Linked DNA regions of Homo sapiens: all the other regions are linked to region 2. Evidence: fine-mapped expression QTL. A gene starts in region 2. Each other region holds a variant in brackets. All regions are shown on one strand. Distances are between the middles of the regions.

What was found. PIP is the estimated chance that this variant, and not a neighbour inherited with it, causes the effect.
Region 1: its variant is fine-mapped to the expression of ZBTB1 in prefrontal cortex (CommonMind, PIP 0.90).
Region 3: its variant is fine-mapped to the expression of ZBTB1 in aorta (GTEx, PIP 0.92).

Annotation. Positions count from the first base shown.
Region 1 is chr14:64,321,762-64,329,944 of GRCh38, reverse strand. It overlaps a transcript of ESR2 not described here. Among named protein-coding and RNA genes, the nearest start is that of ESR2, 31 kb to the right of the region's middle. The variant T/GT (reference allele first, on the strand shown) is at 4,256.
Region 2 is chr14:64,500,436-64,508,618 of GRCh38, reverse strand. It overlaps ZBTB1 (zinc finger and BTB domain containing 1), which reads right to left and starts at 3,849. Exons shown (of 2, transcript NM_001123329.2): 1 at 3,673-3,849. ZBTB25 (zinc finger and BTB domain containing 25) reads left to right here and starts at 4,781. Exons shown (of 3, transcript NM_006977.5): 1 at 4,781-4,958. RefSeq lists silencers at 3,540-3,649, 3,760-4,019, 4,620-5,049 and enhancers at 3,739-4,409, 4,510-4,599, 5,370-5,469, 5,530-5,649.
Region 3 is chr14:64,625,088-64,633,270 of GRCh38, reverse strand. No RefSeq gene overlaps it. Among named protein-coding and RNA genes, the nearest start is that of PLEKHG3, 75 kb to the left of the region's middle. RefSeq lists an enhancer at 1-153. The variant G/A (reference allele first, on the strand shown) is at 4,145.

The DNA of each region.
Region 1 (8,183 bases), 180 kb after region 2:
CTGGTCTCAAACTCCTGAAATTACGTGATCTGCCCGCCTTGGCCTCCCAAAGTGCTGGGATTACAGGCGTGAGCCACCATGCCTAGCCGGGTAGTTTATCTTGACTTGACTTCAGGCTCACCAATCCTTTTGGCTGCAATTCTACGATAGAAAAGGACATAAAAAACTTTAAATTAGCCTTAGAATAAAGAGATGTTATCATTCCCTAGCAATTAGTATTCAAAGCAAGATCCAAATATGTAATTAGTCATTTATGTATCTAAGCTGTTTGTATGTATGATACAAGTTTTCACATACAAATTTCTTCTTTCTTTCTTTCTTTCTTTTTTTTTGATAGAGGCAGGGTTTCACGACATTGCCCAGGCTGGTCTTGAGCTCAAGTGATCCATCTGCCTTGGCCTCCCAAAGTGCTGAGATTACAGGCATGAGCCACAGTGCCTGGCCCAAATTATTGTAGTTATTTCCAATTCCTTTCCCCCTTCTCACATCCCAATTAAAGAATTCCACTCAGGAATTGTTGTAGTAGAAGTGCTTTAGTCTGTGTGCTACGGTTTGGATACTGTTTGTTTGCCAAGTCTCATGTTGGAATTTGATCACTAATGTTGAAGGTGGAGCCTGGTGGGAAGTGTTTGGGTTGTTAAGGCAGATCCCTTATGAATGGTGTGGTGCCCTTCTAGAGGGAGTAAGTTCGTTCTCACTCTTGGTTCCCACAAGATCTCGTTGTTGTAAAGATCCTTGTACTTACCCCTCCTCTCTCTCTTGCCTTCTCTTTCACCATGTGATCTACACACACAGTATCATAAGGCATCTTTCTGATCCTTTAGTGTTCACTCTCCAGTACCTTTAATATTTGCCTTCAAATTTCTCAAATTTCTTTATTTACTTCCATTTTTCTCCTACAATAATTGTAGGCGTACTTAAAGTAGAATTACAATATAAATAATATTTTAAAATATCTACAACTAATACTAAAGGGGTTACTTTATTTTATTTAAATTTTATTTTTAAATAAGAATTTAAAATATCTGCAACTAATATCAGAGCCAAGGGGCTACTTTCTTTGAAATACAAAGAGTCTTTAGAGTCAGACTGTGTATGTTTCAATCTGGGATCTACCTCTTATATTGTAGGTTTAGACAAATTGCTAAATATTTCTTGTCCCAGTTTTCTCATCTACAAAATGGAAAAATTAGCTTCCCTTTGCTGTCTGCCTTGAGTAGAAGCTTCCTGAGGCCCTCATCCAAAACAGATGTTGGTGCCATGCTTCTAGTACAGTCTGCAGAACTGTGAGCCAAATAAACCTCTTTTCTTTATAAATTACTCAGCCTCAAGTATTCCCTTATAGCAACACAAATGGACTGAGATACCGTGTGTGATGTCCTAATCCTTATAATATTATCCTACTACCCAGGCAGATATTGCTCTCCAAATGTCTTCTTAAAAAGGATGGTTTCTGAAATGACACCCTCTTGGGACTATTGGAATTACTGAACAGCTGTTTTCATTAGAAATCTTTTTTTTTTTTTGAGACAGGGTCTTGCTCTGTCGCCCATGCTGGAGTGCAGTGGTGCAATTTCAGCTCACTGCAACCTCTGCCTCCCAGGTTCAAGTGATTCTCCTGTCTTGGCCTCCTGAGTACCTGGGACTACAGGTGTGCAACACCACACCCAGCTAATTTTTGTGTTTTTAGTAGAGATGGGTTTCATTATTTATTTATTTTTTTGAGACGAAGTCTCGTTGTGTCACCCAAGCTGGAGTGCAGTGGCGTGATCTCGGCTCACTGCAACCTCCACCTCCCAGGTTCAAGTGATTCTCCTGCCTCAGCCTCCTGAGTAACTGGGACTACAGGTGCACACCACTATGCCTGGCTAATTTTTTTTTTTTTTTTTTTTTGTATTTTTAGTAGAGACAGGTTTCACCATGTTAGCCAGGCTGGTCTCAAACTCCTGATCTCAGGAGATCCACCCGCTTTGCCCTTCCAAAGTGCTGGGATTATAGGCTTGAGCCACTGTGCCCGGCCTTAGAAATATATTTTGACTATACATATATTTTGTTTTTATTTATTTTTATTTTTTTGAGATGGAGGCTTGCTCTGTTGCCCAGGCTGGAGTGCAGTGGTGTGATCTCAGCTCACTGCAACCTCTGCCTCCTGGGTTCAAGTGACTCTCCTCCCTCAGCCTCTGAAGTAGCTGGAATTATGGGCACATGCCACCATACCCAGCTAATTTTTGTGTTTGTATTTGTATTTTTGAGGTGGGGTCTTGCTCTGTCGCCCAGGCTGGAGTGTGTGGCATTATCTTGGCTCACTGCAACCTCCGCCTCCTGGGTTCAAGCAATTCTCCTGCCTCAGTCTCCCGAGTAGCTGGGATTACAGGAGCCCGTCACCACACCCGGCTAATTTTTGTAGTTTTAGTAGAGACGGGGTTTCACCATGTTGGCCAGGCTGATCTCGAACTCCTGACATCAGGTGATCTGCCCACTTTGGCCTCCCAAAGTGCTGGGATGACAGGCGTGAGCCACTGTGCCTGGCCTAATTTTGTATTTTTAGTAGAGATGGGGTTTCACCATGTTGGCCAGGCTGGTCTCGAATTCCTGAGCTCAGGTGATTCACCTGCCTCAGCCTCCCAAAGTGCTGGGATTACAGGCGTTTGCCACTGTGCCTGGCCAACTATATATATATTTTAAAAGGGGACATTTCTTTTTAATTTTGGAATGGACATTTGAAAATTGTTTGAATTACTTTAGTCTACTCATATCTTTCAGTCTATTGACACAAGGTATATCTGGTTTAAAGAGAAAAGGTGGAACAAAAAAAACCCATTCTAGATCAATTGGTAGATGCCAACAGATTCACTCCCATATGAATATGAAAGGACAAGGAACCATGAATATTTTCATGATGAAGGTGAGAATAAGTTTTGATTGATTTTTGAAGAAAAACAATTTTTGTTATCTTGTTTAACTCTAGGAGGTAATCGAGAAATGTTGAGTTGTTTGTTGGTTCTCTCCCAAAGGGAGGGTAGAAGGAAGCCATGGTTCCTTTATACCGTGGTTGACTGGGAGCCTTTATGCCTTTCTGATATATTAAGAGAAAATGCAAGGGGGGCCTAAAGGTCTCTGTGATACTGAAGAGAAAGGTATAGGGGTAATAGGGCTGTGAGAAAGCTGAAAGCTGAGATCATGTTACAGAATAAGATAGCGGAGTTTCATATTTCTGGTATGGGGCAATTCCTGCTGATGACAAAATCCAGGGTTGTTTTTGGATCTAGGTGTAGGTGGTTGAAGTAGGGTATAAAGGCAGTCATGTGCTGGTAAACTGGCTCTTGAGAAAAAGCACCCAATTTGAGCATTCATTGACTTTTGATACCAACATGTCATTGAGCATAGAATTAGAAAGAGATATGAATAATCAACTCTTGGGAGCTGGAATGATCTGGCTTTAACAACCACTTTCTACATCAAAAAAAGTTAATGTTATTAATATTAGAATAATAAATAATTAAATAATAAATGAGTGTAGGTGTAGGGCATTGGAATTAAGTACACACATGAATCACAAAGCTGTATTATTGGATCGATCATCTACTGTGACCCCTGAAATCTTGAATTATGGTATGAGTTGGTATAGAAGAAGAATGTGAGGCCCCAAATCTTCATTGAGTGAAGGAGGGTTGAGGAGTAGTCAGTAGAAAAGAATAAAAAGAGAAGATTTTATAGAAGTCTGTTGGGGGTAAAATATTGCTGAGGAAGTAAAATAGTACTGAGGAAGTGTTCTTCAAATTCCTTCGACTATAACCACTTTTTAATGTAATCTGTATGTAAAGCAAGGGTCTACATGATCCAATTTATGTGTTGGCTCCATTTATAAAAGAATATTTCAGTTGTCAAAACTAGTTGACAGTACAGTTAATCCTTTAATAATCTGGGGTTAGGGGATATGGCCATCATGCAAAAAAAAAAAAAATCTGTGTATAATTGTTGACTCCTCCCAAACTTAACTACTAATAACCTGTTGTTGACTGGAAGACTTACCAGTAATATAAACAGTTGACTAACACATATTTTGTATGTTGTATGTATTATACACTGTATTCTTACAGTAAAGCTAGAGAAAAGAAAATGTTATTAAGAAAATCATAAAGAAGAAAAAATATATTTACTAATCATTAAGTGGAAGTGGATCATCATAAAGGTCTTCATTCTCATCGTCTTCACTTTGAGTAGTCTGAGAAGGAGGAAGGAAAGGAGGGGTTGG[T/GT]CTTGCTGTCTCCGGGGTAGCAGAAGTAGAAGAAAATCCACGTTATCAGTGGACCCATGCAATTCAAATCGGTCTTCAAGGGTCAACTGTAATTCCAATCTTAATTATTTGCCTTAACTAATTTTCTTAATAAAAGGTGGAATATTCATAATTTACAATAACACCTTCATTTTCTTAACTTTTCTCACTATATCTCTCACATCACATCCTAAACCTTTTTCTCCTGTGCCTAACTCTCCATTCTCTTAAAAAACTCTCCCAGATCCAGTCTATGCTGCTCATAATTTCTCTTCCCTTCCTCTTTTTCCTACCTTCTTTCTAATGCAAATTCATCATTTCATGAATAATTTTCTCTCCTCTTATTTCCTACTTTTACTCAACAAAAGTCCAGAAACTAAACTTGCTTACTCAGATCCCAGAGCTGCATAAAAGGACAGGAGATCTTGGATGATGTGTGGGTTGGAAACAGAAGGTATTACATTCTTTTGTTAAATAATTGAGGATTTTGCATGTGGTTAAAATGATGTCAGAGCTAGGCAAGGAAACGGGATTCTCCTACATTCCTGATAGGAGATTAAATTGGTACAACCCATTTGGAAATGCATTTGTCAATATCTCCTAAAACCAAAGTGTATCCCTAAAACCAGAATATATCCTACCCTGTGACTCAGCAATTCCACTCCATCAACAGTGGAATGTAATGAATATGGCTATCAGGTTTCAATATGCTAGTGACATCTGCTACATCTATTAACAGAAGTCTATAATTTTTTAACCTCTGATCTCTGAAAACTTATTTTATGACTTTATTACTCTACAAACTAAAATGTCTTACTATTGTGTATCAGATCCACTTCTTTTTAAATTAATTTTTAAATGTCAAGTCTTAATAGTCTTCCTTTAGCCTCTATTTACTAATTTATTGTCCCCACAATGTCACTCTAAACGTAACTGTTAACTATCAGGAAGTATTTCCTTCTTTTTCTATAGAGAACAGAAGATCTTCAGCAGGAAATTCAGATGCTTACTCAGCAAATGGAACAGCTGTATCATCTTTATGAACAGCTGTTTGTGAATCATTCCAACTTGAAGAAAAGTATAGGGAACAACAAAAGATCCTTGAAATACCTGGAAGGAAAAATTGCTTTTAATGATGTTTTAAAAGATTAGACTATGAAAAAAGACTTTCCTGAATTATAGATGTTATTTTGGGCAATGAAATTAACTATTTATTATTCTAATATTAATAACTTTAACTTTATTTGGTGTAGAAAGCTGATAAAAACTATTTATATTTCACTTAACATTGGAAAAGTGAGGGGGAAAAATCCTTAGAGTTATGCTTCTAATTTTATCAAAAAACATGCCCTTTCCCATATCTTCAGTTTTTTCACTGTGTACATATTTGACAGATAAAACCATCAATATAATATGGAAAGTTTAGTGTCTTTTATAATCTCTTCTTGTAAGTTACATAACATCACTTCTGCCATATTCTATCAGTCAAACAGACCAACCTGATACAATGTTGTTCGAGACTATAAGGGTACCAGGCGGCGCGGTGCAGATCATTGGTGGTCATCTTAAAAGTCTGGCTACCGCACTCATTTCTTTTACTCACAAACTGAATGATTTGCTTATTCATTCATTTATTCAATACTTATTGAACAACCACAGATTTTACAAACATATAGGACTGGCTGGGGGCAGTGGCTCACGCCTGTAATCCCAGCACTTTGGGAGGCTGAGGTGGGCTGATCACCTGAGGTCGGGAGTTCAAGACCAGCCTGGCCAACATGGAGAAACCCTGTCTCTACTAAAAACACAAAAATTAGCCAGGTGTAGTGGCTCACATTTGTAATCCCAACTACTTGGGAGGTTGAAGCAGGAGAATCGATTGAACCTGGGAAGTGGAGGTTGCAGTGAGCTGAGATCGTGCCACTGCACTCCAGCTTAGGCGACAGAGCAAGACTCCATCTCAAAACAAACAAACAAAATAGGACTTAATGAAGTAAGGTCAACAGTAGACCATATAGAGTTTAAAGATAAATATATCATCTCATCTAGCCTCCACCTCTGCCTTTGAATATGTGTATGGAAATAATACATTGAATGGTTAATCCATGCAAATAAAAATAATCCTTTATTAAGTTTTCTTAAGATTGTACAAAATAACGTGTGCTTGGCCAGGCATGGTGGCTCACACCTGTAATCTCAACACTCTGTGAGGCCGAGGTGGGATCACTCGAGGTCAGGAGTTTTAAGACCAGCCTGGCCAACATGGTGAAGCTCTGTCTCTACTAAAAACACAAAAATTACCTGGGCACGGTAGCACATGCCTGTGGTCCCAGCTACCTGGGAGGCTGAGGTGGGAGAATCATTTGAAACTGGGAGGCAGAGGTTGCAGTGAGCCAAGATTGCACCACTGCACTCCAGCCTGGGCAACAGAGTGAGACCCTGTCTCAAAAAACAAACAAAAAACAAAATAACATGTGCCTACCCCAACACTTAAAGCTATGCTAAACAGTTTAAAGGAAATAATAATTTTCTCTCTGCCCATGTCACCTCAGTAACCAATGTTAACCATTCCCATAGTTATGGAAATATGTAAACATATATAAAGGGTAATGGTGTCTTCACAAAACTAAGATCATTCTAATAAAAATATTCTGCAACTTCCTCTACTTAGTAGTGCCTCATGGTTGTATCTTAAGTTAAAAGATATAGCTCTTCCTTTAATAACTGTATAATATTCTATAGTATGCATGTATCTTAATTTATTCAACCATTTCTCTTTTGAGGGATGATATAATTATTTCCTTCTTTTGGTCACTACAAATAATGTGAAAATAAGTATCTTTCAACTTATATCCTTCCACACTGGTGCTTTTGTTGCTAGGGGATTAATTGACAAATATGAGCTGATAGGGTCACAGTGCGTATTTTAAATTCTAATAGCCATTGTCAGATTACTATTTGCAAAAGGATAGAAGCAGTTCATTTAAGAGTAAATCATTCTCCTTTACATCCAGCTAGCATTGAATGCTGTCATTCTTTTTTGTTGTTAGTTGGGTAAAAAAAGAAACAAAAAACAAGGTACCTCATTATTATTGTAATTTACATTTTCTTGACTACTAGTGAAGATAAGGATCTTTTTTTTTTTTTTTTTTTCCTTTCTGTGGAGATAAGGTCTTACTATGTTACCCAGACTGGTCTCAAACCCCTGGATCAAGCTATCCTCCTTTCTCAGCCTCCCAAAGGGCTGAAATTACAGGTGTGAGTCATTGCACTTAGCCAGTAAGCATCCCTCTTCTTTAAAAAAATAATTTCAGGCCAGGTGCAGTGGCACATGCCTGTAATCCCAGCACTTTGGGAGGTCAAGGTGGGTGGATCACCTGAGGTCAGGAGTTCGAGACCAGCCTGGCCAAGATGGCAAAACCCTGTCTCTACCAAAAATACAAAAATTAGCTGGGCATGGTGGTGGGTACCTGTAATCCCAGCTACTCGGGAGCATGAGGCAGGAGAATGGCTTGAACCCAGGAGGCGGAGGTTGCAGTGAGCTGAGATCATGCTATTGCACTCCAGCCTGGGTGACAAGAGCAAAACTCTGTCTCAAATAATAATAATAATAATTTTTATTTTTATTATAGATTAAGGGGTACATGTGCAGGTTTGTTACATGGGCATAATGCGTGATGCTGAGGTTTGGGTTACGTCACCAGGTAATGAGCTTAGTACCCAATAGGTGATTTTGCATCCCATGTCCCCTCTCTCCCATGTCTGGTAGTCCCCAGTGTCTATTGTTCCCACCTTTATGTTTATGTGTATTCAATGTTTAGCTCCCACTTATAAGTGAGAACATGTGGTATTTGGCTTTCTGTTCTTGTGTTAATCTGCTTAGGATAATGGCTGCCAGTTCCATCTATGT
Region 2 (8,183 bases):
AAAACTGCTTATCTTGTAAGTAGAAGCTGAGACTCTTGATTCAAAGCCCTAAGTTTCAGTTTGTGTAAACCAGACAACACTCTTCTGAATATGACTATTAGCTGAAGTGCCCCTTTGGAACATTCTAAGCCTCCTAGAGTCACCTTTTTCATGAATCTAAAAGCTCTCATCATTCTCTTACTGCTCCATCTTGCAGGAAGAATGTCCAGTCCCTTCCCTAAATCCCCTTCCATCTGCTAACTCCCCACTGTCCACCAGAGCATGCCTCTTCTAATACTTCAGATTCAAAGTGGGGATGGAACTCATCTCTAAAAACGACTGCATGCATCTCATATAGACAAAAGAAAATCTGGTTAATTCTTTAATCTTCAAATTTTATTTTGAAAACTATTTTAAATTCAAAGACAGAGTAGTATAAAAACCACCCACGTCCCCAACACTCTCAAATAACCAATGTTGTAATTAACTTTCTATGTACTATTTTGGGGCTCTGTTTTTAGATCATCATCAACTTCTTCACAGTTCATTCTTCTTAAATACACATGGCTAAGGAGTGAGACCCTGCCGCTTCCTCCCCAGTATCAGTCTCTTCCATGCCACATCTGAAAACAGCGGTCATTGACCCTTCTTTCGTCCAATTTCCTTTCCATATGTTCAGCATGCAATCTTTGGTGCTGATCAAGAGGAACCCCATCCCATATCAGCACAGGGATATATTGGCAGTGGTCTTCATGGCAAGTATACCCACTCCTTCCTAATTATAAATTATGAAACTCTCTATAAAGGTGAGGGTTTGCTTTTGTTTTCATGTGTTTGGCTGCTGTAAATCAATCCATCAGAGGCTGGGCAACAACATTAACATGAACAAAGTATGAAAAATAGCCCACCATGATACAGTAAGTATTTAATAAGGACAAACCTAAAATAGCAGCCCAGTTAATCAAATAATTTTAAATCAGCCCAATGCAAAACACTCCCCTTTCCTCTACCTGGCAATTCTTACCAACCTGAGTAATGTGAACAGAGAACATGAGTCCATGAATCACCACAGGCCATCCCCAGGCAGAGTGAGGCACACACAGCTGTGATCAAATGTTGCCTTCTCTCGTTTTAAACAAGGAATTAACTGTACATGGTGATTATCTCTGGGGAGTGGGAGTCAAAATGACTTTCATTTTTGTATTTTATGTACTTCAATACAGGCTGAATTTTTCAAAGAGCATGGATTTTATAATAAAAAACATTTCCATTTTGAGAAAAAATAGACACGAGTAACCCTTAATTTGGTTCACATAAGAATATGAGAAAAAATAATTTCACCATTTTAGCATGAGATACTAGCACAGAAGAAAATGTCAGGAGAAAACATTCTATAGAGACCAAAGTGACCTCTCAAGAAGATGTTTCTCAAATATACCTCATTTTTTTTGGGAAGACAACAGATTGCAGCTTATTAACAAAAATCTATGGAAATTTTTCTGTATTTCTATACCAAATAGTTTCCTCTCCTTTGCACCAAAGGCTTAGTGCTTTTCCTGGCTAGAGGGCAAGTCTGAAAGCAGGTACTTCTTTTCTCCTGCACATTAGAAAGGGAAATGATGCTACAAAGAAAACGAGATACTCTTAAAAAGGTCGATGAACTATATCTTCCCCAGAGCCTGGCAAAAGAGGAGAATGAGGAAGCAGTACAAAAATTTAGAAGTGTTAAACTGAAATCAAAGCACAAGGTCAAGAGCAAGTGGCTGTGACTGTGCTCATGCCCTGCTAAGGCCCTGGTTAAATATGGTTTCTCTTTTCTCTGACAATGATACACCAGTCCCTTCCCCACAAAAACCCCAAAAAAGTAGGCCATCGTATTAGGAGTGGGAAGAATAGAAAGGCTTCAGGAAAGACTGTTCAACCTGAGTTATTCAATACCATGAAAATGTGGTATTAATGGAGAAAGCCTGCTTGCTCATAAAACGAATGTAAGAGGTTAACTGAAGACTCTACTGTAGACGTTATGTTTATTAACCTTTGGAAAAGCATTTCACCTCTACTATGCTTCAGTTTCCTGTTTTTGTTGTTGTTGTTGTTTGTTTTTTTGAGACAGAGTCTCGCTCTTGTTGCCCAGGCTGGAGTGCAGTGGCGCCATTTCGGCTCACTGCAACCTCCGCCTCCCAGGTTCAAGCGATTCTCCTGCCTCAGCCTCCTGAGTAGCTGGGATTACAGGCGCCCGCCACCACGCCAGGCTAATTTTTGTACTTTTAGTAGAGATGGGGTTTCGCCATGTTGGCCAGGCTGGTCTCGAACTCCTGACCTCGGGTGATCCACCCGCCTCGGCCTCCCAAAGTGTTGGGATTACAGGCGTGAGCCACTGCGCCCGGCCCAGTTTCCTGTTTCTTTAAGAGGAGGAACCCCCTTTCTAGCTCCCAAAGTCATCCAGTTATTATTGAGACTTTATTAGATATCCAGCAAGTGATTCAAAAGCAAAGTTTTGAGGTTCTGAGCAAATGTTGGCCAGCCATCATTCAAGCCTCATCTTTTTGTACTCAATTTTCCCCGTTTCTCCACATCATATCTATCTGCACTGACAAAATTTCATAGAATCTAATTTCTCCGTTTCAAAGAAGGCTGTGATTGCTCTGTAAATTATGAGACCTGCATCCTTCACCAAATCTGCTTCAGAGACATTGATCCTACGTTGCCTCAAAAAGCCTCGGACCACTCCTTGGGTTCGAGTGTCAAAGGGAACACTATTTCTTGTACTGATACATACCGTATGGAAATACACTAACACCAATGAAGAATCTGCGTGCACTGCCACACTGAAATTCGACTTAAGAACGTTATCACACACAAATGTCCTATCCCCAGAAAACGTCAAGGATTTTCATCAACCTCTTCCTGATTCGCCCAATTTAGAAAATGTCATGTCAACCCTTCAGATCATGTACACGCGTTGCTTAGGTAGAAAGGGAGACTGGGTGGGGTGGCTGAGCTCAGACCCTGCCTACATACTTTAGTAGTAACGACTCCCGATCTGCATCCAACACATTTACCGAACTTCTAGTAAGCGCCCACCGCTGCAAGCGAAAGCACTCCCTTCCCAAGAAACAGATCTTTTCCACTTAAAATTCCCAAACTCAGACCTTCCACTTTTTACTGAACAAAAAGCGTGTGTGCCGGCGAGAGGGGGTGGGAAACAGCGTAACAAGAATTTGCACGGATCTTACGCCTCCTCCCTCGGAGCGCGCCCAAGTCTGCAGCCTCGGGCTCCGGGACACTTCCCCTCCCACCCGCCGCCGAGCCGCAGCTGTAAGTTGAGAGAAGCGGGCTCTAGGCACGTCAATCAACCGGGTTCTCCCGCCTCCCGTCTACACCTCCCCTCCCCCCTCGAAAAAAATAAAGGCAGAGAAAGAAAGAAAAGAAGGTAACTAATTTGGGAACTAGTCTCCGTAGGGGCTTCGCCTCCGACTCAGGGAGGCCGCACGCCCGGGACCTGACGCGCCGGCAACAAGCAGGCGGCCTGGCAGCCGCCCGTCACCGGGTCCTCGCAGCGCGTCCGCCGCGCTCCGGCTCCCCGCACGGATCGGCGCCCCTCCGGCCCCGCACTCCGCCAGGCCCGCGGCCCGTCGCCCTCCGGCCTGGGCCAAAGTTGCGCAAATAGCCCCACAACTGGCAAATACTTACCGGCCGCAACAGGAACCAGAGCTGCGGAGATTTTAGGGAGTTTAAGGCAAATCAGCCGCGGGAAAGGCGGGCGAAGGCGAAGGGGCCGCGAGCTGCAGTGGCGGCGGCGCGCGGCGCTCGGCGCTCGGGCTGGGCTGCGCGGAGAGGCTCTGGCTCTGCCAGGGACTGTGCTGCAACAAAGGACTTCCGCTGCCGCACAGCCGCGCCTGCCGCACCGCACTGAGCCGGCCCCGCTTACGCGGCGACTCCGGGTCTGCCCACCAGTTCGCTGCGGCGTCCGCCAGCCTTCCCCTCCCTCTCGCCCGCCCACCCACTCTGCCGCTGGCTGCTAGGGGCACCCGCGGTCGCCTGTTTGTTGCAACAAGTTTCTGCGTCGAGCTCCGAGGAGGCTGGCGCAACCCGCACCGCGGGGGCCGTCGCGGCGGCGGCGGCTTGACCACCCCTCTTGCCCCTCTCAAGGGTAGGCTTGGGACCTCCTCCTCCTCCTGTTTGCACAGCTGGATGGAACTGGGCTCCTCCCGACTCCCCAGGGCAGGATGCGAGGCTGCTTTCCCACTCCGTCCAGATGTCAGACCCCTGCCCGTTGGGCCCAGCAGCTGGGCCGTCACTCGCGGTCCGCCTCGAGTGCTCCGGCAACCTCGCCCTGCCCCGTCGGTTCAGGGTCGCCCAGTCCCCGCGCCCCCCCGACCCCACCTTCCGTGGGCCTGCTGCCTCTGGCCCTGAGTCACTTCCCCCGCCATGCCCCACCTCGCCCAGTCCGCCTCTCCACCCAGGCTCCCGCGGCTCGGCCTCCCTGGCCCCGCGCCCTCATCCCTTCCCCAGCGAACACGCGGGCGCATCCTTCCCCACCCCCACCTTCACCCCAGAACTGAGGGGGTGCCTGTGCTTTTGCACACCCTGGGGAAAGTCCCCGGGTCACGCGGTTGTTTGTGGGGAGCCTGTGACGCTCAGGCTTGTCCCTATGCTTCCGCCTACAGAGTCACAACTGCGAACTGTGGCGGCGGCACTCAGAGCGCGGGCCGACCCCCGCCCGGCCACTGAGGCGGGCGGGCGGGAGGGCGCGCACGTACGCACGCACGCACGCACGCACACCCCGGCCCTGGCGCCCCTCTTTCCCCTGCTACCAGACACGCGGTCACGTGGGGCCATCGCGGGCTGCCGGCGCGGGAAGCCGCGCGAGAGGCGGCCGAGGGGTGCGTGAGCCGGCGCCACTGCTTGCAGTGCGCGGCTTGGGAGCCCGCCCCTCCTGCACGGAGGAGTCGGCCTGCCGCCGCGGCGGCATCTGGGTAAGCGACGCGGTCCTGCCCCTGTGGGCTGCCCCGGGCTCAGTCCCTCCTGCCGCGAGCCACCCAGGGCGGCGGCCTGCAGCTGCACCAGTCGCGGGACAGATGCAAGTAGCTGGGGAGAGGGGTGTTTTTGGTCCGATTGAGATGTCAGGCAGGGCACAGGAGGAAAATACATCCGCGAGTGAGCGCTGGGCCGACAATACCCAGAACCACCCTTTGCTGCTCGTAGGAGCGGCTGCCGGGGCCTGATTCAGGGTGGCACACGGGGTGCCGCGAAGGTGCAGAGCCGTCCCGGCCGCGGGTCCGGGTGCGACCCCCAGCAGGAAACCCCAGTAGGCCTGCGGCCTCCCTCGGGTAGCGCCGACCCCTCTTACGAGCGGGCGACTTTCCAGATGCTGGGAGGACGCTGCGGCTACTGTTTCCACTCCCAGCTTGTGATTACCTCGTTTCTAGGGCAAGAAGACATCCCCCCCTTTTCTATCTTCAAATTATGTTTATCTTGTTCTAAGCATATCCGGTTTTTCTTTTTGAAGCTTGACCCATCTTATCACCGTCTTCTCTGGCACTCAGTATTTGGAGTAATCAGTTGTTACCAGTTGCGGAGGCAGCGCATAGCACAACGTAGTACCTGGAACCTGACGGCACCTAGCATGTTTCAACAGTTAGCGCCCGCATCACCCCAAGGGATTAAATTTGGCATTCTTTCTCTTGAGACTCAAGTCCTGGCAGAGCTGTTGATCCTCTCACAAGATTCTGTCATGTATGTAAAGTACACTTTGGAATCTTAAATTTTAGAGCCGAGAGGTGCCTTATAGAAAATCTGTTTCATCCCTCTCGTTTTACAGAGAAGACACCAGGCCTGAAGAGCGTGATGTAGCTGGAGCTAGCTACACCTCTTGATAGCTAAGACTCCAAGGCTCCAGACACCTTGGTGATTGCACTCTCCACCATGCCAGGACCGCAGTGCCAGTTTACCCCACTCACCTGTAGAGAATGTATCCGGCGGAGGTCATTATATATACTTGGCTTGATTCAGGTTATGGAGAAGTCAGGCATGGCCACTGTGTGGGTTTGATGGTATTTCTAGGTGAGGTAGGCCGCCTATGGTGTATTTTTGGAACTAAAAGCCTACACCCCCCAGCCACCCCTGAAAGTTTCATTGCTGTTCTCTATTATTTGCAGCATTGGTTGCTTCCTTATGTTAAGGCATCAAAGTCTTCTTTAACAATCTGGATATATTTTAGTTAAGGGTAAATCGTGAATCCGTTATCGGACATCAACTCCTTAATAGGGAACAGAACACTGATGGGATATGACATGGAACAGATTAATTCTGAGAGCTGGCAGTCAGTGAAATATCAAGGTGTGGTCAGGAAGAAAACAGAAAGGAACCCACGTAACCTGCTAACACCTTTTTTGTCCAGTCCTACCTTGAATGTCTTATTTGCATGTAGTAGAGATGGATTCTGCTCAAGTTGGCCGCTGTTTACTGAGTACTTGCAGTGGGCCAAGTATCATACTAGCTGCTTTCGTAGATGAACTTTGTGTCTTTACCAAAAAGGAGATGGTACTGTCTTCATGTTACAAGCCTGAGGAAACAGGCTCATTACCTGGGCTGTGGTAATACAGTCATTCGCAGTAGAATTTAAGCCTAGATCGCTTATCTCTCAAGTCCAATCAGTGCTGTTTTGCATTATATCTTGCTCCTGTTTCAGCCGGGAAGGGAATGAGAGAATCGCCTGTGGCTGATTTATTGGCGCCTGTGGTTGCCCAGAGAGGCCAAGCAGGACTTTCAGCTGCCCTCTATGCCTTACAAAGTGGAGCTGTGAGCTTCCACCCTATCTCCTGAGGGGAATGTGAAGGAGCCAGGCTGTCTAGCTGGGGAGGAGGTGCCTTGGCCGTAAAATATCCTGGCCAGGGCTGTGCTGGGAAGTGTTGCATAATGTCCTCCCCACCACTGAACCAAAGTGATTTATTTGCTATGGTCCGTAGGTGGTGCCTGACCAACTTGTCCATTTTAGCAATAACAGGGCCAGAAAAGAGTTGGGGGTTTTATATTATTGCAGGGTTTTTCCTTGTTTTAAAAAAGCAGTGCAGGTGCTCTTATCTTGATAAGTTATAAAGTGCTTCTTTCTGCACCACTTCCTGTGCCCCTTTTCTGTGTATTTATTCCAAATAGCATGTGAACTTCAGTCTTTTAAGAAGAGAAAGCTAAGAAAATATTGCTCCAGTTTATTAGCACAGGCTATGGAGACAGACCTGGCTTTTTATCTCCACTTTATACCATTTGCTGATTGTGTGTCCTAAGCTTAGGATTTTTCCTCATTTGTAAAATGGAAATGAAAATAATACATTAGTCATCACAGTGACGATTTTAAGAGATAGTGTATATAGAGCACTTAGCACAAGGCCTCGCATATAGTATTTATTATAATAATAGGTTTTGAAAATAACCAGAATAGTATTCTCCCTAAAAAGGAAAGATATTGCTACTTGAACCTGCTTAGGGATAGAGGAGGAAGAAGAAAGTGTTTGTAACAAACATCAGTTTCAGGATTATTGATTAAATTTTTTTATACTTCTGGGGTTTTTTTTGTTTGTTTGTTTTTTGAGACAGAGTCTACCTCTGTCACCCAGGCTGGAGTGCAGTGGTGTAATTTCAGCTCACTGCAGCCTCCGCCTCCTGCATTCAAGCGATTCTCTGGCTTCAGCCTCCCGAGTAGCTGGGATTACAGGCGCCTGCCACCACACCTGGCTAATTTTTGTATTTTTAGTAGAGACAGGGTTTCGCCATGTTGGCCAGGCGGGTCTTGAACTCCTGACCTCAAGTGATCCGCCCACCTTGGCCTCCCAAAGTGCTGGGATTATAGGTGTGAGCCACTGTGCCTGGTCCATGTTTTCTTTATCCATTTGACTATCCATGGACATTTGAGTTTTTCCCCCTTATTGGCAATTCTTCTGCCTCAGCCTCCCAAGTAGCTGGGATTACAGACGTCTGCCACCACGCCCAACTAATTTTTGTATTTTTAGTAGAGACGGTTTCACCATATTGGCCAGGCTGGTCTTGAACTCTGACCTCAGGTGATCCACCCTCCTCGGCCTCCTAAAGTGCTGGGATTATAGGCATTTATTTACCGTTCTGCTTTCCCTTTGCTAGCAGGAATTTTCTTTCTCTCTCTCTCTCTTTTTTTTTTTTTTTTTTTTTTGCTTTATTGGGAGAAAAAG
Region 3 (8,183 bases), 120 kb before region 2:
TGAAGTAGGGTGAGCCCCTGATCCAACATAATTTGTGTCCTTATAAAAAGGGGAAGTCGGCCGGGCGCGGTGGCTCACGCCTGTAATCCCAGCACTTTGGGAGGCCGAGGCGGGTGGATCATGAGGTCAGGAGATCGAGACCATCCTGGCTAACAAGGTGAAACCCCGTCTCTACTAAAAATACAAAAAATTAGCCGGGCGCGGTGGCGGGCGCCTGTAGTCCCAGCTACTCGGGAGGCTGAGGCAGGAGAATGGCGTGAACCCGGGAAGCGGAGCTTGCTGTGAGCCGAGATTGCGCCACTGCAGTCCGCAGTCCGGCCTGGGCGACAGAGCGAGACTCTGTCTCAAAAAAAAAAAAAAAAAAAAAAAAAAAAGGGAAGTCAGAGACAGATGCACACAGGAAGGACACCATGTGAAGAGACACAGGAGGAAGACAGCCAGCTACAAGCCAAGGACAAAGGCCTGGGACAGATCCTTCCCTCAGAAGGGACCAACCCTGCCAACACCTTAAACTCAGATTTCCAGCCTCCAGAAGTGAGAGACAATAAATTCCTATTGTGTAAACCATTCCATCTGTGGCACTTTATTACGGCAGTGTTAGCAAATATCGCACCAGCTTTGCTAAACAAGCAAGGGGGTGGGGAGAGATTGGAAAGACTAGACCATTATTCAAGAGGGGCCGAGATCATCTGGAAGAGACTGTACTAAATGGAAAGAAAATTAGTTCTCCTGAGTTACCTTTCATAGACAAGTGAAGTCCTCTGCCCCCACCAGAGGCAATAGAAGCCTTAGAGGAAGATAAGAATAATCACAAAGAAGCCTGTCCTTTTTTGCACATCTGAGTACACTGAATAAAATTCCAGCTGTATTCGAATCTCAGAGATATAGCCTATCCTGGCCTGCTCTCTCGGTGTGACCAGAACCCATCCTCCTGGGCATTTTATGATTTCTAGACTGGCCACTTTCTTCTCATTGATACCAGCTTCCTGACTCGTTGCCATAGTTCCAGTGGCAAATTCCTAAGCTGGCCACAAGAGCAGTGGCATGCTGACGTGGGTTTGTACCAGCTCCCAAGAGCTGGCTGTTAAATTTTCAGGAATTTTGTGAGCCAGTTAAACACGGCCATTATTAAAGATCAAATTATAAATATGACCAAAATTTTTAAAAAGTATTGAATACTCAAAAATCATCATTTTCTAATTATTTTCTTATATTTTACTATTATGTTTTCTGGGTTATTATATCTGTTACATTTGTATGATGGAAATACTTTGTAATGAATTGTTACTGTGTGTTTCTTCCCAATTTCATGTTCAGTAAATTCAGGTAGCTCAAAATCAACTATAGTGGGAGTATTTACACTATGGAAATTGGTAAATGCTACATATCAGCCCCCACCTCAAGGAGAGCCAGTTGTTAAAAATTTACTAGCATAGGCTGGGCGCAGTGGCTCATGCCTGTAATCCCAGCACTTTGGGAGGCCAAGGTGGGCGGATCACCTGAGGTCAGGAGTTCAGACCAGCCTGACCAACATGGAGAAACCCCATCTCTACTAAAAATACAAAATTAGCCAGGCGTGGTGGCACATGTCTGTAATCCCAACTACTTGGGAGGCTAAGGCCATAGAATAACTTGAACCCAAGAGGCAGAGGTTGCGGTGAGCTGAGATTGTGCCATTGTACTCTAGTCTGAGCAACAAGAGCAAGACTCCGTCTCAAAAAAAAAAAAAAATATACCAGCCCATCACTACATAGATGCTGCCATGGGCCTTGAGTTCTGCATTCTTTTTTGAGATGAGGTCTTACTCTGTCACCCAGGCTGGAGTGCAATGACAGGATCACAGCTCACTGCAACCTTGACCTCCCACGTTCAGGTGATCCTCCTGCCTCAGCCTCCTGAGTAGCTGAGACTACAGGTGCATGCCACCATGCCCAGTTAATTTTTGTATTTTTAGTGGAGTCAGGGTTTTGCCACATTGCTCAGGTTGGTCTCAAACTCCTGAGTTCAAGTGATCCATCCACCTCAGCCTCCCAAAGTGCTGGGATTACAGGTTGGGCTCTGTATTCAGATCTACTAGTAGATCAACTGAAAAAGCTTGAGAAACAATTATTATCAGCTGTACCCAGGTCTGATCTGGGATTTAAATTATCAAAGAGTGATGAGAACAGTCTTCCACCATTCCATAGAGGAGGGAGACTCCCAGTGAGGGTGACACCAGTGAGACCTCTACTGTCTTTCCAGACTTGGGGCAGGACACTAGGCAAAGAGCTACTCACTTCCACACCTTTGTTGTCTTTTGCTACTATTGAGTGACAGTGCTGAACAGGGAACCTCTGAGCAGACTGCCACCTGACAACCTTTATTGGTTTAAAATAACCTGGAGTAACTCTTAATCCTGCTTCTGGCAACAAGAGAATGACGGAATTCAAATGGGTCCAAGACTTCCAGGACTGAACTGCTGTCCTCTGCAATCCATTCTGTAAACCCCCCTCTTCCACCTGCTAATGTGGTATCCACAGCAGAGCTGAGTCCTGGGGGAGACTTCTCTTTCTGCATAGTAACAGGTGTAAAAATAGCAGCTGACCCCTTCAGGGATAGGTGTCAGGCAAAAATGTCTCGGGGACCACAGTAGTTGTAGTCTGGGGATGGTAGGGGCTGACCTGGGCTTGTATCCAGCTCTACCATTTACCAACTATGTGGTCTTGGGCAAGGGATGATCTTTCCAAACCTCCTTTTCTCATCTGTACAGTAGGGAAACAAGACAGATTCGCAAAAGTGGAATGAATGAGAGATAGAGACTTAAGTATATATACAGTTGTTCTTCGGTACCCATGGGGGATTGGTTCCAGGACCCTCCACCAAAATCTGCAGATACTCAAGTCCCTGATATAAATGGTGTAGTATTTGCATATAACCCATGCAATCCTCCACTATAAATCATAAATCCTCCCATATAAATCATCTCTAGGTTACTTATGATACCTAATACAATGTAAATGCTATGTAAATAGTTGTTATACTCTGTTGTTTAGGGGATAATGACAAGAAGTCTGTACATGTTCAGTACAGATGTCATTTTTTTTCTCAAATGCTTTTGATCTGTGATTGATTGAGCCCAAGAATTCAGGACACACAGGTACAGAGGGCCAACTGCATTTCAAAGTTACATTCTTAACCAATGCAATAGAGTGAAAAATAGGAATTTAGCTCTAAAGAAATGGTGGGGTCACAGGGTGGTGACATATCTAAATCCTAGTCTGTCGGAGCAGAACAACAGAAGGTAAGCATATTATTTAGAGGGAAAAAGGTAGCTCCCAGAAGCAGCAAAAGCAGAAAAAGTAAAAGTAGTTACGTTTAGAGTTTGGGACTTCAGCTGGGGAGAGATGCAGCTGTTGGATTTTATTGCTGGACTTTCCAAATTTCTTACCTTTTTCTTTTTTTTTGAGACGGAGTTTCACTCTTGTTGCCCAGGCTGGAGTGCAATGGCATGATCTCGGCTCACCACAACCTCCACCCGCTGGGTTCAAGCGATTCTCCTACCTCAGCCTCCCAAGTAGCTGGGATTACAGGCGCCCACCACGCCCAGCTAATTTTTGGTATTTTTAGTAGAGATGGGGTTTCTCCATGTGGGTCAGGCTGGTCTCAAACTCCTGACCTCAGGTGATCCACCCGCCTTGGCCTCCCAAAGTGCTGGGATTACAGACCTGAGCCACCGCCCCCAGCCAAATTTCTTACTTTTTAATCATGTGTATGTATTACCTTGACTCCCTTTATTAAAAAAGAAAATAGCTGTGCATTATATTAACTAGATTTCTAATCTATCTCTTACAGGGTTGATTTTAATTTTCTTTTCCCTGCATGTGAGACATGCTTTGCCACAGCACAGGGCCCTTGGAAACAGTTTGTTTTTATAGCTTCTGTGTCTCTGTAGGTTTCTATAGCTCCTTGAAGTCTGTTTTGTGTATCTCTTGATTTATAAGATGTTCGTGAATCATTCCAAATAAAGACTTCCTTCTTGCAAAAATATGTAAAGAAATAGCAAGGGATGATTCAGAGTTTGAGGCGAGCACTTTCATCTCCAAAGAGCTAAGCAGTGAGCTGGGCAGCACGCAGTCACGGCCAGCCTGGCTAGCACATCATCTGC[G/A]CTCAGCTGGGCCTGGCCATGGCCTCAGAACCAGTCTGCCCCCTGCTTGGCACTCTCCAGCAAACGCACTTCCCTCCCCCACCCCTGTCTCCAGGCCACACTGGAAATCTCACACCCATTAACCTCAAGTTCACAGGCCTGTAGCGTCCACAGATAGTCTTCAGGGGACCCACAACCCACTAGAATTACATTTGCAACCTTGTGTTTTCTGGGAAGAGTGTGCAGATAGTCTTTAGATTTTCAGTGAGCTGTACATAGGTCTCCAACTCTCCTCAAAAGGCAACTTGAAGTGGTATTTACACCCATAGAAACAGTAAAGACTGTGATTCTCTACCCCTTATCATGCTTTCAGCATAGGATGGTGGCTAGAAGCCCCACCTCTGGACTAGACTGCCTTGTCTTTAAGCCTTCCTCCACCATTTCCTAGCTATGTGACCTCAAGCAAAGTGCATCACCTCTCTGTGCCTTTGTTTTCCCAATTATAAAATGGGACAAATAATAGTACCTACCTTCTTGGCTCATTGTGAGGGTTAAAGGAGTTAATATAGGTGAAATGCTTAGAGCCTGGCACCAAGGCAGTTTCAGGTGGTGTTTGGCCCCGCCCTGCTGAAGTCTGACAACTCACAAATGGTCACCCCATTGCTGTGTGCATATCTTCCATGTGCTTGGGGATGTAGCTGAAGCACATCCTAGGGGTCAGTGTGGTGGTTCAGGGTGCTCTAAATGCATAGGTGACACTACAGAGATCCCATGGAGGGGAGCGGAAACTGCCAAAGGCTGTGTGTTGGGTAGGGAGTAGTCATGGCAGCTTCTGCACTGAGCCCTCCCCCAGTGGCTTCCTGGGGCTCCTTCATCTGCTGGACCTAGAAGAACTGTGTATCGTTCTCCTCGACATCGTCCCATCTAACACACCCTCCTCTCTGCCTACTTGAACCTCCACTCATCCTTGGAGACTTCGCTTGAGTCCCCCACTGAGGAGTCTTTTGTGACCACTGCCTCCCCATGTGAAACACACTGCTCTTTCTATGGGACTTGTATTAATCTGTTCTCATACTGCTCTAAAGAACTGCCCAAGACTGAGTAATTTTTGTTTGTTTGTTTGTTTGTTGAGATGGAGTTTTGCTCTTGTTGCCCAGGCTGGAGTGCGATGGTGCAATCTTGGCTCACTGCAACCTCCACCTCCTGGGTTCAAGCTATTCTCCTGCCTCAGCCTCCCAATTAGCTGGGATTACAGGCATGAGCCACCACACCTGGCTAATTTTTGTATTTTTAGTAGAGACAGGGTTTCACCATGTTGCTCCTGACCTCAGGTGATCCACCCACCTTGGCCTCCCAAAGTGCTGGGATTATAGGTGTGAGCCACCTTGCCCAGCCGAGACTGGGTAATTTATAAAGGAAAAAGGTTTAATTGACTCACAGTTCCACATGGCTGGGGAGGCCTCAGGAAACTTACAATCATGGTGGAAGGGGAAGCAGGTACCTTCTTCACAAGGTGGTAGGACAGAGAAGAGTGAAGGAGGAACTTCCAATCACTTATAAAACCATCAGAACTCGTGAGAACTCACAAGAACAGCATGGGGGAACCACCCCCAAGATCCAATCATCATCCTCCCTTGACACATGGGGATTACAGGTCCCTCCCTCGACATGTGAGGATTACAATTCAAGATGAGATTTGGGTGGAGAAACAGAGCCAAACCATATCAGGACCCTTTGTGTTTACTGTGTTTAGTGCAAGCCATGCCGTGTGCAAAGTGAGCCTCATGCATTAGCTCATTTAATTCTCACAACAACCTTTACAATAAACAGAAATGATGATTATCCTTCATTACAGATAAGAAAATTTAGGCTTAGATAAATATTTAAAACTTCATCTGCCTGAGGCCAGGACCCATGCTTTTATCCACTTCTCTAAACAACCTCTCTGATTCTGCCCAACTCCTGCAATGCTTTTTTTCCCCTTAGTTAAAAAACCTCCTGTGGCCCTCTTGAAGACAGGTTCATATCTGATTCATTTTTGTATCCCAAACATCTATTATTGTGCCCAGCATATAGTAGGCACTCAGTAAATGTTAAATGGATGGAGTGATCTGGAATTTGGGCTCTGCAAAAATTTTGCCATGACTTTCTCCAGGTCATAACCTTTTAAAAAGGCTTCTAGCCTATATCAGGGTAAATGCTTACTTAATTCAATAAAAAGTATATATTTACTTAGTACCTACTATGTGACAAGCACATAGGTCTCCAATACTCCTGACAAAGGAACTGTAAGTGGTTTTTACACCTATGGGAACAGTAAAGATGGTGATTCTCTTTCCCTTATCATGCTTCTAACATAGCACAGTGGATCCCCACCCCCAGACTAGAGGTTACAGCAATAAATAAAACAGCAAACCCCTCCACCTCACCCTCTTGAAGCTTATATTGTCTTTTCATTTGAAGAAAGCCTCACTGGGCACCTCCCCTTGGCAGTGCCATTATGACACTTCTTGCTGATAGTGTTTGTATTAGTCCATTCTCATGCTGCTAATAAAGACATACCCAAGACTGGGTAATTTATAAAGAAAAGAGGTTTAATTGACTCGTAGTTCAGCAGGGCTCGGGAGGCCTCCAGAAACTTAACAGTCATGGCAGAAAGGGAAGCAAACATGTCCTTCTTCACATGGTGGTAGCAAGAAGTGCCAAGCAAAAGGGGGGAAAAAAGCCCTTAAAAACCATCAGATCTCATGAGAACTCACTCACTATCACAGGAACAGCAGCATGGGGGTAACCGTCCCCATGATTCAATTACCTCCCACCAGGTCCCTCTCACAACATGTGGGGATTATGGGAGCTACAATTCAAGATGAGATTTGGGTAGGGACACAGCCAAACTGTATCAGTGGTGAAGACTAGACCTGTCCTCTTAGAGTTATCATACAATCCAGATGAATAAATACACAGGTAAAAATAAAAGGCAACTCCCACACAAAAACCAAACTACAGTGGCTCCCGGCTCCCAGCTCCCAGGCAGGCTGAGAGCCCCAGGGCCACTGGCTCAGGTGCATGTTTTCCTGAGCAGCCCTTCAGACCCGGCAGAGGCCCTCACGGAGCAAGTCGGGGGGCACTCCCAGTGTTCTCCTCTGGCTTCACCCCTCACACATGCTGGGCTCCTGCCTCTTCCTCCCTCCTGCTCCAGATCCAGAAGAAGGGCCTGGGCAGGCCCCGTGGTACTCCTGACTTGCCTGGGCTGTTGTTAGCATAGAGATCAAAAAGAGAAAGTGCAGCCAGGGGGTGCGGGGAGAAGCTGGTGAGCCGAGGCAAGAGCTGGCTCCGGAGTTGGCAGCAGCCAGGACACCCAGGTCAAGTGCAAGGAAACAGCGCAGAGGCACTGAGACCGACAAGAGACCCAAGGTCACAGAGCTCACCGCGCATGTCCTTCCTGTTATTTTCCCTCCATGTGCAGAGTTTAAAGTATGAAATCCCTGTAGCTGTGAAAGCGGGGAGACATAAGAGTCTGTTGCCTCAGGGAGAATCTTACTATTGGATTACAAAGGCTCAATATGGAACTCAGAGGGTGGGGCAGATCAGCTCTGGATTCTTTCCTTCTATTTGCCTTTCTGCCCCTACCTACAAGACAAACAGAGCAGCCTGTTGTCTGACCTCCTCAAGCCTATAAGAGTCTCTGCACAAATCTTCACCATTCTTCGGCAGCTCTTTCTGGGGTATCTTCCTGCCCCTCACCTTCCACCCCGGCTAGCCTTTGGCTCACCCTCTGTCCAACCCCACACCTGACCCCAGCTTCTGAAATGAGCTATTCTTATTTCTGAGACTATATATGCATGTATTGGGTCACTTGGGGCCAGCGTGGGGGAGCTGGGATTTAGGGGCTCCTTCACCTTCAGGAGTTCAAATCGTCATTTGATTTAGGGGTAGGCCTGCAGCCTAACAGGGTTCTGTTATTTGGTTAAACCAGTTGAAGCAGAAAGGAAGCATTTCAAAGTAAAGGAAGGGGCCACAGCGTCAGCCCCTGGAAGGGCTCAGCTCACCCTCACTTTCA